Regions from separate parts of the Homo sapiens genome. Here region 1 is linked to region 2. A link means that fine-mapping ties the variant in region 2 to the expression of a gene that starts in the linked region. Tissue or cell type: fibroblasts. Region 2 holds a variant in brackets; the other region holds the start of a gene. All regions are shown on one strand. Distances are from middle to middle.

What was found. PIP is the estimated chance that this variant, and not a neighbour inherited with it, causes the effect.
Region 1: CFAP251 starts here. The variant in region 2 is fine-mapped to the expression of CFAP251 in fibroblasts (GTEx, PIP above 0.99).

Annotation. Positions count from the first base shown.
Region 1 is chr12:121,916,128-121,921,347 of GRCh38, forward strand. CFAP251 (cilia and flagella associated protein 251) reads left to right here and starts at 2,465. Exons shown (of 22, transcript NM_144668.6): 1 at 2,465-2,568; 2 at 5,159-5,220. The coding sequence starts at 5,179. PSMD9 (proteasome 26S subunit, non-ATPase 9) reads left to right here. Exons shown (of 6, transcript NM_002813.7): 6 at 157-2,170. The coding sequence ends at 184. RefSeq lists a silencer at 2,594-2,743.
Region 2 is chr12:121,939,109-121,944,328 of GRCh38, forward strand. CFAP251 (cilia and flagella associated protein 251) reads left to right here. Exons shown (of 22, transcript NM_144668.6): 6 at 3,426-3,537; 7 at 3,787-3,867. Among named protein-coding and RNA genes, the nearest start is that of CFAP251, 23 kb to the left of the region's middle. The variant G/A (reference allele first, on the strand shown) is at 2,177.

The sequences.
Region 1 (5,220 bases), 23 kb before region 2:
GAGTCTCTCCTGGGAGTCTCTCCAGTTCATTCATGCACTAGGCATTTGCTTTAAAAGAATGAAAGAACATTGGTGAAAAGGTCAGAAGGGCTCAGCCTCTGACCTTCCTGAAGGGAGCCTCCAAACTTACGCCATTCCTTTTCTTCTTTCTTCCAGCTGCAACATTATTCCTCTGCAAAGATGATTGTCCCTGGGGAACAGTAACAGGAAAGCATCTTCCCTTGCCCTGGACTTGGGTCTAGGGATTTCCAACTTGTCTTCTCTCCCTGAAGCATAAGGATCTGGAAGAGGCTTGTAACCTGAACTTCTGTGTGGTGGCAGTACTGTGGCCCACCAGTGTAATCTCCCTGGATTAAGGCATTCTTAAAAACTTAGGCTTGGCCTCTTTCACAAATTAGGCCACGGCCCTAAATAGGAATTCCCTGGATTGTGGGCAAGTGGGCGGAAGTTATTCTGGCAGGTACTGGTGTGATTATTATTATTATTTTTAATAAAGAGTTTTACAGTGCTGATATGACCCTGTTGTCACCCCAGCTGAATTTCTTATGACCCTCCCAAACCAAAGCTCAGATGGGGTCAGAAGAGCTTCATAGAAAGTTGGGCAAAACAGGCTAGCAATTGCAAAGTCAGGCTTTGACCAACATATTTCTTTGCACTGAGGCCTTGCTGCTGTGGATACGGAAATGGTTAAGTACTGTGCTTCCTCAGCAGCTGGGCTGTCAGGGCCATAGTAGCTCCCTTTGGAGAACAGGGAAAGCCTGGAGGCTTCCCAGGTGGCCCAGCGTGGTGTCCTGTCAGCTTCCTCTTTAGGAACCCACCAGAGGGCAGCAAGCTCCTTTCACTTCGCTAGTAAGAACCCCTCCGTTTTTGTGTGTTTTTGTTTTTGTTTTCTGGAGACAAGGTCTTGCTTTGTCACCCAGGCTGGAGTGCAGTGTCGTGATCAAGGTTCACTGAAGCCTTGACGCTGTGGGCACTGCCTCAGCCGCCCAAGTATCTGGGACCACAGGCGTGCACCACCATGCATAGCTAATTTATTTTTTGTAGAGACAGGGTCTCCCTGTGTTGACCAGGTTGGTCTCGAACTCCTGGGCTCAAGCAGTCCTCCTGCCTTGGCCTCCTAAAGTGCTGGGATCACAGGCGTGAGCCACTGCGCCCAGCCCACTGCTAGTTTGACTTTTTATAATTGAACCTCCTGGCTATGCCCTGAGATCAGCGCTATTTTGTAAACCGCTGAGGTATGGATAGGAACGAGTAGATCAGACCTCTTGAAAATGCTTATTCTTCCTCCCTTTTATTTTTTGTCTCTTTTAAGATGGTAAAATGGTTCTCAGGGATTCCTGCCAATACTTTGAATTATTTTTTCCTCTCCATGGTATCAGTGTTCATTTCCCCAGTTCTTGCACACCGCTTTCTGTTTTGGCAGTTCTGCCAGGCAAGCCCTGTGTTCCTTGGGACTGGTTTTGCTGTGGTTGGATACAGATACCAGCTTGCCTTGATGGGATTGGTATTGCTGTGTGCTTCCAGCCACAGGTTCTCACACTCAATTCCAAAGCCTTCCTATTGGGCGAATTCCCTCAAACTCTATTTGACCTGACAGCCATACGTATTCCCCTCTGGTAGCCACAGACATGCTGTGTTTACCAATGTTTGCTGTTTAAATTGCATGTTCTAATTCCACGTATTTTCCAGTCTCTTTTATAAAGTCTCAGACTATAATAAACACAGCTTGCCCAGTTTATCCTTTCTTTTTTATTTTAAGATGTATGCATATTAATCAATTTACCATCACTGGGGCATGGCAGTGTGGGCGGGGAGAATTATTCACATTCTCCTAAAATGACAGCAGCAGAGAGCCTTCTGCCTCAGTGGCTCTGGCTGGTTTCCTGCAGGGGTCCCAGTGGAAACCCGTGTGGCCACCTGTTGCCGTCTTCCATGAGATGTTAGTGGAGAGCCACTTTGACGTGGAATGATCCTAATAGATATAGCCAGACCGGTTTTGCGGAAACGCTTTGTGCTGAGAACCGCAAGCTGGTGCACCCTGTGTCATATCTGCCCCCAGCCAGCTGGAATTGTCTGCAACACGCGGTGCCCGGTGAGGAGGCAGGCAGGACGGTTGTGTGCTGCATCCATGAGACCTGGAAATTCAGTTTGCTTTTGGAAAAGAGCATTGTATCCGAGTTCATACTTCTCCACCCCATCTTGCCAAGGTTGCGGAAAGTAAAAATTGGCAGTATTGGCCGCTGCAGCTTCTTAGGGGACGGGACCATGTGAAAAGGTGGGATCGTGCGAGCGGAGGAAGGACAGAAAAGCGAGGAAAGTCTATGCCGCCAGCGACCGGCAGGAGGCACGTCGGGCACGCTCGTCACCGTTTCCTGGCACGTGACCACCGCCCTGCCCTGTCGCTTTAGGGCCTGTCGCTTCCGGCGGTGGCGGTTGCCATGGGGACGGAGCTTGGGTGGCAACCAGAACTAGGGAGCTGGTGGAGAAGGTGGCGGCCGCTGGAAGGAGGCCCGGGAGGTGGCTGAGGGGTCCAGGCGGCGGGACGACTCTGGCCTTTTGAAGACCGGGGTGGGTGCTCTCTGTAAGTCCGGGGCGGAGGCCACGCGGCCCTGGCGAGGGGGCCCCCGACCTGGCGGGGTCTGGTGCCCCTTGGGGGGCGCTCACCCGACCTGGCCCTTGTGGGGCCTGGGGCGGCCCCAGGGAGACCTGAGTTGGAGGCAGAGGCCGCACCTGGGCTTTAATCCCCTCGCAGAGCCACGCACCTGGCACCCCTGCCCCAAACCCCTGCGGCTCGAACCCGGCTGTCCAGACGCGCCGGCGAAGTTGGGCTCAGTCAAAAGAGGCTCGGTGGTGAGAGCCCTAGACTTGATTCAGAGCAGTGATTTTTCAGCTGGAGAAACTAAGTGCCAGAGAAATCTCGTTCTTACTAGCGGTGTCATCTTGAATAAGTCACTTCACCTCTCAGAGCCTCAAACTCATTTATCCATTCATTATTTATTTATTATTATTATTATTATTTTTTTTTTACCAGAGATGAATTTGAGGAGCTGATACATTTAGTGCTGAGAAAGAAATTAAGAAATAGAAATACCTTTTCTACTCTGTACTCTCTGGGACTTTATTTTCAAAGTGTTGAGTTCTCTTATTCTAATGTCACTGAAAATGTAGGGATTTTTTTTGTTCGGGGTCCAACTCTTTAGGGATAAAGTATCCATCCTTATTGTTTTCCTAGTTCAAACTCTTGTTTGTTGTAAGGAATAAATGGAGAATATGCCAGAAGGCTTTCAAACTGTTCATTTCTTTGCACATTAGGGTTGCTTTTCTCTCAAATAATAACAACTGCTACCATTTTTTCAAGCTGTATGTGCCAGAATTGTGATGAGCATTTTATATATGTTATCACTTCTCTACAACAACCCTAGAATTTAGGATTATTCTTTTCATTTTGCCCATGAGAAAATGCAGACTCTGAGGGGTAAAGTGACTTGCCCAAGGTCACAGAGCAAGTACGTGGTGGAAATGGGATTCAATGCTAGGACAAGCTGACAGCAAGGCCCTTGCTTTTAACCACTAGGCTACCCTGCTTCTTCTCGTATTCCTGTTTCTAGAATTGTTGCTAATATGTGGGTTATGCATTTTGCTGCCTGTGGGAATATAAATATATTTTAAATGAGTAAAAAGGCTACAAGGTGTTTATTCCCAGAAAGTTGACAGGCCCTGGATCAGTATTTTTAAGATCTGGGCCACAAATACATATACTTTAAGATTTCCCAGCTGCGCGTGATGGCTCACGCCTGTAATCCCAGCACTTTGGGAAGCCAAGGCGGGCGGATCACTTGAGGTCAGGAGTTTAAGACCAGACTGGCCAAAATGGTGAAACCCTGCCTCCATTGAAAAAATACAAAAATTAGCTGGGTGTGGTGGCAGACGCCTGTAATCCCAGCTGCTCGGGAGGCTGAGGCAGGAGAATAGCTTGAACCCTGGAGGCAGTAATTGCAGTGAGCCAAGATCGTGCCACTGCACTCCAGCCTGGGCAACAAGAACAAAACTCTGTCTCAAGAGAAAAAAAAAAAAAAGGTTTCCCACAAATGTGACTTTTTTTTTTTTTTTTTTTTTTTGAGAGAGGGTCTCGCTCTGTTGCCCAGGCTGGACTGCAGTGGCATGATCTTGGCTCGCTGCAACCTCCGCCTCCCAGATTCAAGCTATTCTCCTGCCTCGGCCTTCTGAGTAGCTCAGATTACAGGCACCACCACCACACCAGGCTTTTTGTATTTTTTTTTTTTTTTTGAGACGGAGTCTCGCTGTGTTGCCCAGGCTGGAGTGCAGTGGCACGATCTCGGCTCACTGCAAGCTCCGCCTCCCGGGTTCACACCATTCTCCTGCCTCAGCCTCCCGAGTAGCTGGGACTACAGGCGCCCACCGCCAAGCCCGGCTAATTTTTTGTATTTTTAGTAGAGACGGGGTTTCACCGTGTTAGCCAGGATGGTCTCGATCTCCTGACCTCGTGATCCACCCGCGTCAGCCTCCCAAAGTGCTGGGATTACAGGCGTGAGCCACCACGCCCGGCCAACTTTTTGTATTTTTAGTAGAGATGGGGTTTCACCATGTTGGCCAGGCTGGTCTCAAACTCCTGACCTCAACTGATCCTCCCGCCTCAGCCTCCCAAAGTGTTGGGATTACAGGCGTGAGCCACTGTGCCTGGCCAGAAATATGACATTCTTTTTTTGTTTTTATTTTTGAGACAGAACTTTGCTCTTGTTACCCAGGCTGGAGTGCAATGGTATGATCTTGGCTCACTGCAACCTCTGCCTCCCAGGTTCAAGCGATTCTCCTGCCTCAGCCTCCCAAGTAGCTGGGATTACAGGCGCCTGCCACCACACCCAGCTAATTTTTGTATTTTTAGTAGAAACGGGGTTTCATCATGTTGGCCAGGCTGGTCTCAAACTCCTGACCTCAGGTGATCCATCTGCATTGGCCTCCCATAGTGCTGGGATTACAGGCATGAGCCACCGTGCCTGGTCAGAAACATGACATTCTTTTTATTCCTATGGAAAGGGAACAGAGCCATTTATGCACATTTCATCAGTAGGTTAGTGCACTAGGAGATGGAAATGGGAAGCTGAGGGCCAGCTGGTTATTATGGTCAAAATCTCTCTAGAGGAAACTCTACAGAGAAGAATGTCAGATGCAGCAGAAGCTCCCCGAGAAGCAACAGGAGAA
Region 2 (5,220 bases):
TGTTTTGAACACACGTATATGGATATCTTCATGTAGCTTGTCTCCACAACATTGTTGGTGTGATGTTTTCCCAGACAAATCTGATTGTGTTGCCACCCTGATTAAAACCCTTTAGAGACTGTCCATTGTCAAATCAACTTATGCTACAGGGGACACGCACCCTGCATTAGGGCCCTGCAGACACTTCCCCCAGAAAGTGAAATGCCCGCTGCCTGCACCCATAGCCGTCTGTGGCTGCTACACGCTCTCAGCTGCAAGTACTGGCACATCCAACTTAACCACAAGGGAAGGGTATTATCTCATGCAGTAGAAGCCTGCAGTCGGCCGGCAGAAGGGTCAGAGTCCTTCAGGTGTGTCTCATCTCTGAAGCCTTTGCTGACCAACACCTTCACCAGACAGAGCTGCCCCGTTATGATGTGGAGCCACTGTTTTTTCCTTATTTGTGAAACTCTCTCTCTACTAGACATGAAGCAACTTGAGGGCAGTGATTTTTTTTAAAAAATTTCACAGTAAAGCATATCTGTGGTTAATAATGCAAATGCTATGTTAATATGAATTTTATGATATCCCAAGTGATTACTTTGGGACCCAGAAAAGATTATTCAGAGGCTGTTTTGGTTTTAGGATTAATATTCATTTTATTAGTGATAAATTAAAAACCGTAGTTCTTCCTCCAGTTTTTCGCTCAGCTTAAAAATCTTACTCTGTTTATAAATCTAGCATATTTTTGCAATCACCTTTGAAGAGGCTTTGATTAATGTTTGGCCCCACTTACAAATTTGGTTATTAACTCCTTTTAAACATGTAAAACTGCATTTCAATATTTAAGAGATTTAGTTTCTTTACGTTTTTTAGTAGTCTGATTAACAAACAAATCCTTCATGGTACTTAAGTAATTACTGCAAATCTAGTAAATTAGACATAAATATGGTAAATCTTAAGTTTCCTTAAGTGTTCTAATATTGTTTATAAACCTATTACGATTTTAATTTAAAATCACAAGTCTAAATCAACTATATATTTTAAATTAGCATCACAAATCTAATCTGTTAGCAACTCTGGTATGTCAAATTCACTTAAACATTACAAATTCCTAAAAAATGAACAAATTCTCTTATCACAAATATGTTAATAATGCAGGTCTGACTGACTTCATCTTCTCTATATTCAATTCCAAGTATCTCCAGGGATGAGATACATTTTCTCACTAAGGACTTCACTGTGTTATTTCCAATCATTTTGGAATTGCCTTCCCAGGTGAATTTCTGGGGCTACTTCTCAGTAGGATGAAGTTTCTCCAGTGACAGAGAACCAGAGAAGTCCTCAGCTGGGACACAGACTTGATACCAGCCAGTTGGGACCCTAGCGTGACATACAGAGATGCTGAGGCCTGTTTATCTTCACTGTATCTAGGACTCCATAAACAAACAAACAAACAAACAAAAAAGAACCATGTGACCCGCATTCCTGGTTTAAGTCTTGCTACCACCTACTTTTCATTCCAGTGGGAATCAGCAGACCTCCCCCAACCCAACCATTACAGCTTCCATCTTCGCTTCCACTGCTTCTGTGCTTTGGCTGTCTTAGATACTTGCATGTCATCTAATTCTGGGTATTTCAAGGCTGTGTTGGAATCATACAGCTCTAAGGTCTTGTCAGTAACACAGTATGGAAATGTAAGAGCAAAAAATAAAAGTTCCTCCTCACCCAAACCCCATCTTCAGAGGAACCATTGCTTACAGTTTGGAGTCTATTCCTCCAGAGTTTTTTCAATACATACACACGCACACACACACACATGATTAGGATGATGCGATTGTTTTGCAGTGTGCTTTTTTCACAAATTTTGGTCACTTTCCCAATCTACCTCATTCTTTTTGAAGGCAGCAAAGTTTTTATTTTTATTTCTATTTTTTATTTTTATGTCTTTATTTTTTTTTGAGATGGAGTTTCACTTTTGTTCCCCGGCTGGAGTGCAATGGTGTAATCTTGGCTCACTGCAAACTCCGCCTCCTGGGTTCAAGTGATTCTCCTACCTCAGCTTCCCGAGTAGCTGGGATTATAGGTGCCTACCACCACACCTGGCTAATTTTTTGTATTTTTAGTAGAGACGGGGTTTCACCATGTTGGCCAGGCTGGTCTCGAACTCCTGACCTCAGGTGATCCACCTGCCTTG[G/A]CCTCCCAAAGTGCTGGAATTACAGGTGTGAGCCACCATGCTGGCCTTTTTTTTTTTTTTTTTTTTTGAGGCAAGATCTTGCTTTATCACCCAGGCTGGAGTGCGGTGGCGTGATCTTGGCTCACTGCAGCCTCAACCTCCTGGACTCAAGCGATACTCCCACCTCAGCCTCCCAAGTAGTTGGGCCCACAGGCACGTGCCACCACACCTGGCTAATTTTTCTATTTTTGGTAGAGATAGGGTTTTGCCATGTTGTCCAGGCTGATCTTGAACTCCTTAGCTCAAGCAATCCACCCTCCTCAGCCTCCCAAAGTGCTGGGATTACCAGTATGCAGCACTGTGCCCAGCCTAGTTTCTTATCATATGGTTATGCTATAATATCTTTTTAAATAATTCATGTATGGTATATTAAGGGACATTTGTGTTGTTTGATTTTTGCTATTAGAGCAGTACCATGATGACTGTGAATTTTCATTGACCTTTGTTTACTTTTTCCATGATTTCCCTAGGAAAAAGTCGTAAGGGTGGAGTTACTGGGCTGTAGGGTGTATGCATTGAAGGTTTTGATAGATACAGCCAAACTGCTTCTAGAAAAGTGCTGCTCCTTTGCATTCCCACCTGTGTAGGAGAGTGCCCGATTCCCTGAGAGCTGGGACGTTGTCCTAGTCATCTTTTCATATTTACATCCTTCCTGCCAGGCACAACCTGGCACAGAATCAGTGCCTGGTACCTAGTGAATGAGAACCTAGAGCTTGTGAAGAGGGCAAACAGCAGGCCCATTGCCTTGAGTTAGGCTTGACTATTATTGTTGTTGAGGTTAAATTCGCATAACATAAAACTGACCATTTTAAAGCATACGGTTCGGTGACATTTAATACATTTACACTCTTATGCAACCATCATCTCTATCCAGTTCCAAAACATTTTCACCGCCCCAGAAGGACACCCTGCATCCATTATCTGTCTCTGTGGGTTTGCCTATTCCGGCCGTTTCATATGAGTGGACTCATACACCACACGCCTTTCGTGCCTGGCTTCTTTCACTCAGCATCGCTTCCGACGCTCATCCATGTCATAGCATGCATCAGTGCTTCATTCCCTTTTATGACTCAGAAAGATTCCACTGTATGGATAGACCACATTTTGTTCTGTTTTGGAGAGGTTTGGGCTGAGCTCAGACCTGCCCTGGGACTCTCTGGGAAGCCAGGGAGACCTCAGCAAGTGTCGCCCCCCTTGTCCTGTTTTGCAGTATTCCTGTGCACACAATATTTGACAGCTGCCCTGAAGGGAATGGCATCATGGCCATGGCCATGACCCACGACGCCAAGTATCTGGCAACCATCTCAGATGCTGAAGTCCAGGTAAAGGCCCTGGCCCTTTGGGTCAGCATCAGCGAGCTGGCCGACCTGTGCAGCGTGTCCCCATGGGCAGCTCTGTTCAGGCTGGGCTGTGTGATGTCTGTGATATTCTCAAAAGACCAGACTCCACAGCACAGAGTCTGGGCCTCTGTCCTTAGTTACTTGAAGTTTTGGGGTCACCACAAGAGGTGTAAGTTACTTCAGCAGACTTCACAGACCTTCTCATGCCCCTCTCTCTACTGTCACCTACAGAAGGTATGCATCTGGAAGTGGACTTTGGCAGTGGAAACGCCAGCATGCACTCTCGAACTCCCCACAGAGTACGGTGTTCAGGTGAGTTCAGTTGGAGCCTGTAAACATCAACCTGAAGTTATACAGGTGCAAGGCCAGGCTGGGCGTGGTGGCTCACACCTGTAATCCCAGAACTTTGGGAGGCTGAGGTAGGTTATCACTTGAGGTCAGGAGTTCAAGGCCAGCCTGGCCAACACAGTGAAACCCTGTCTCTACTAAAAATACAAAAATTCCCTGGGTGTGGTGGCACATGCCTATAGTCCCAGCTACTTGGAAGACTGAGGCATGAGAATTTCTTGAACCTGGGAGGCAGAGGTTGCAGTGAGCCGAGACTGCGCCACTGCACTCCAGCCTCGGTGACAAAGTGAGACTCTGTCTCAAAAAAACAAAAACAAAGTTCTACAAATGCCAGGCCAAAACCTACTTTTTGTTTCAGTAGAGTTGTGTTATGTTGCAGTAGAGTGTTTTTGTTTGTTTGTTTTGTTTTTGTTTTTGTTTTGAGACAGAGTTTCGCTCTTGTTGCCCAGGCTGGAGTCTGGAGTGCAATGGCACGATCTCGGCTCAACACAACCTCTGCCTCCCAGGTTCAAGCGATTCTCCTGCCTCAGCCTCCCGAGTAGCTGGGATTACAGGCACGTGCCACCACGCCTGGCTAATTTTGTATTTTTTTTAGTAGAGACGGGTTTTCTCCATGTTGGTCAGGCTGGTCTTGAACTCCCGACCTCAGGTGATCTCCCCACCTTGTCCTCCCAAAATGTTGGGATTACAGGCATGAGCCACTGCACCTGGCCTCAGTAGAGCTTTTAAAACCCTTTCATTTCCTGATCTTGTTTTACTTGAATATAATAGCTAATATTTTTGAAGCACTTATGTTCCAGAGTCTGCTAAATTCTTTACTTACATTATCTCACATAATCCATGCAAACATGCTAGCAAAAAAGATATTAATATCTGTGGAATACTACCATTAATTATTAAATAATTTGTCTAAAATCACCCACCTGGCAGTCTTTCTTATTCTAGAAGTGTGCTCTTAACTACTTCAAACCTTGTAAAACTAACTCTGAGGAGTATAGGGAAGTTATCATTATTGCTCCCAACTTGCATGAGGTGACTTGCCAAGGACACCCAGAAAGTTTCTATCAGGTCTCCTTATTTCCTGAGTCACTGCTCCCTGCTTTTGTGACTTGTCTCATTCATCCTTGCATGCTTCATTTGTCATACATTTATTGAGTACCTGTTCTGTGCCAGGCACTGTGGTAAGTACATGCCTGACTTGCAGGATCTAAAATCCAAACAGAGGGTTTGGGTGACTAGACTCAGCCAGGGAAATATGGTTATGCAGCCATATGTCCATCTTCTTTCCTTTCCCCCCAACATTCCTCTTGCTCCTAA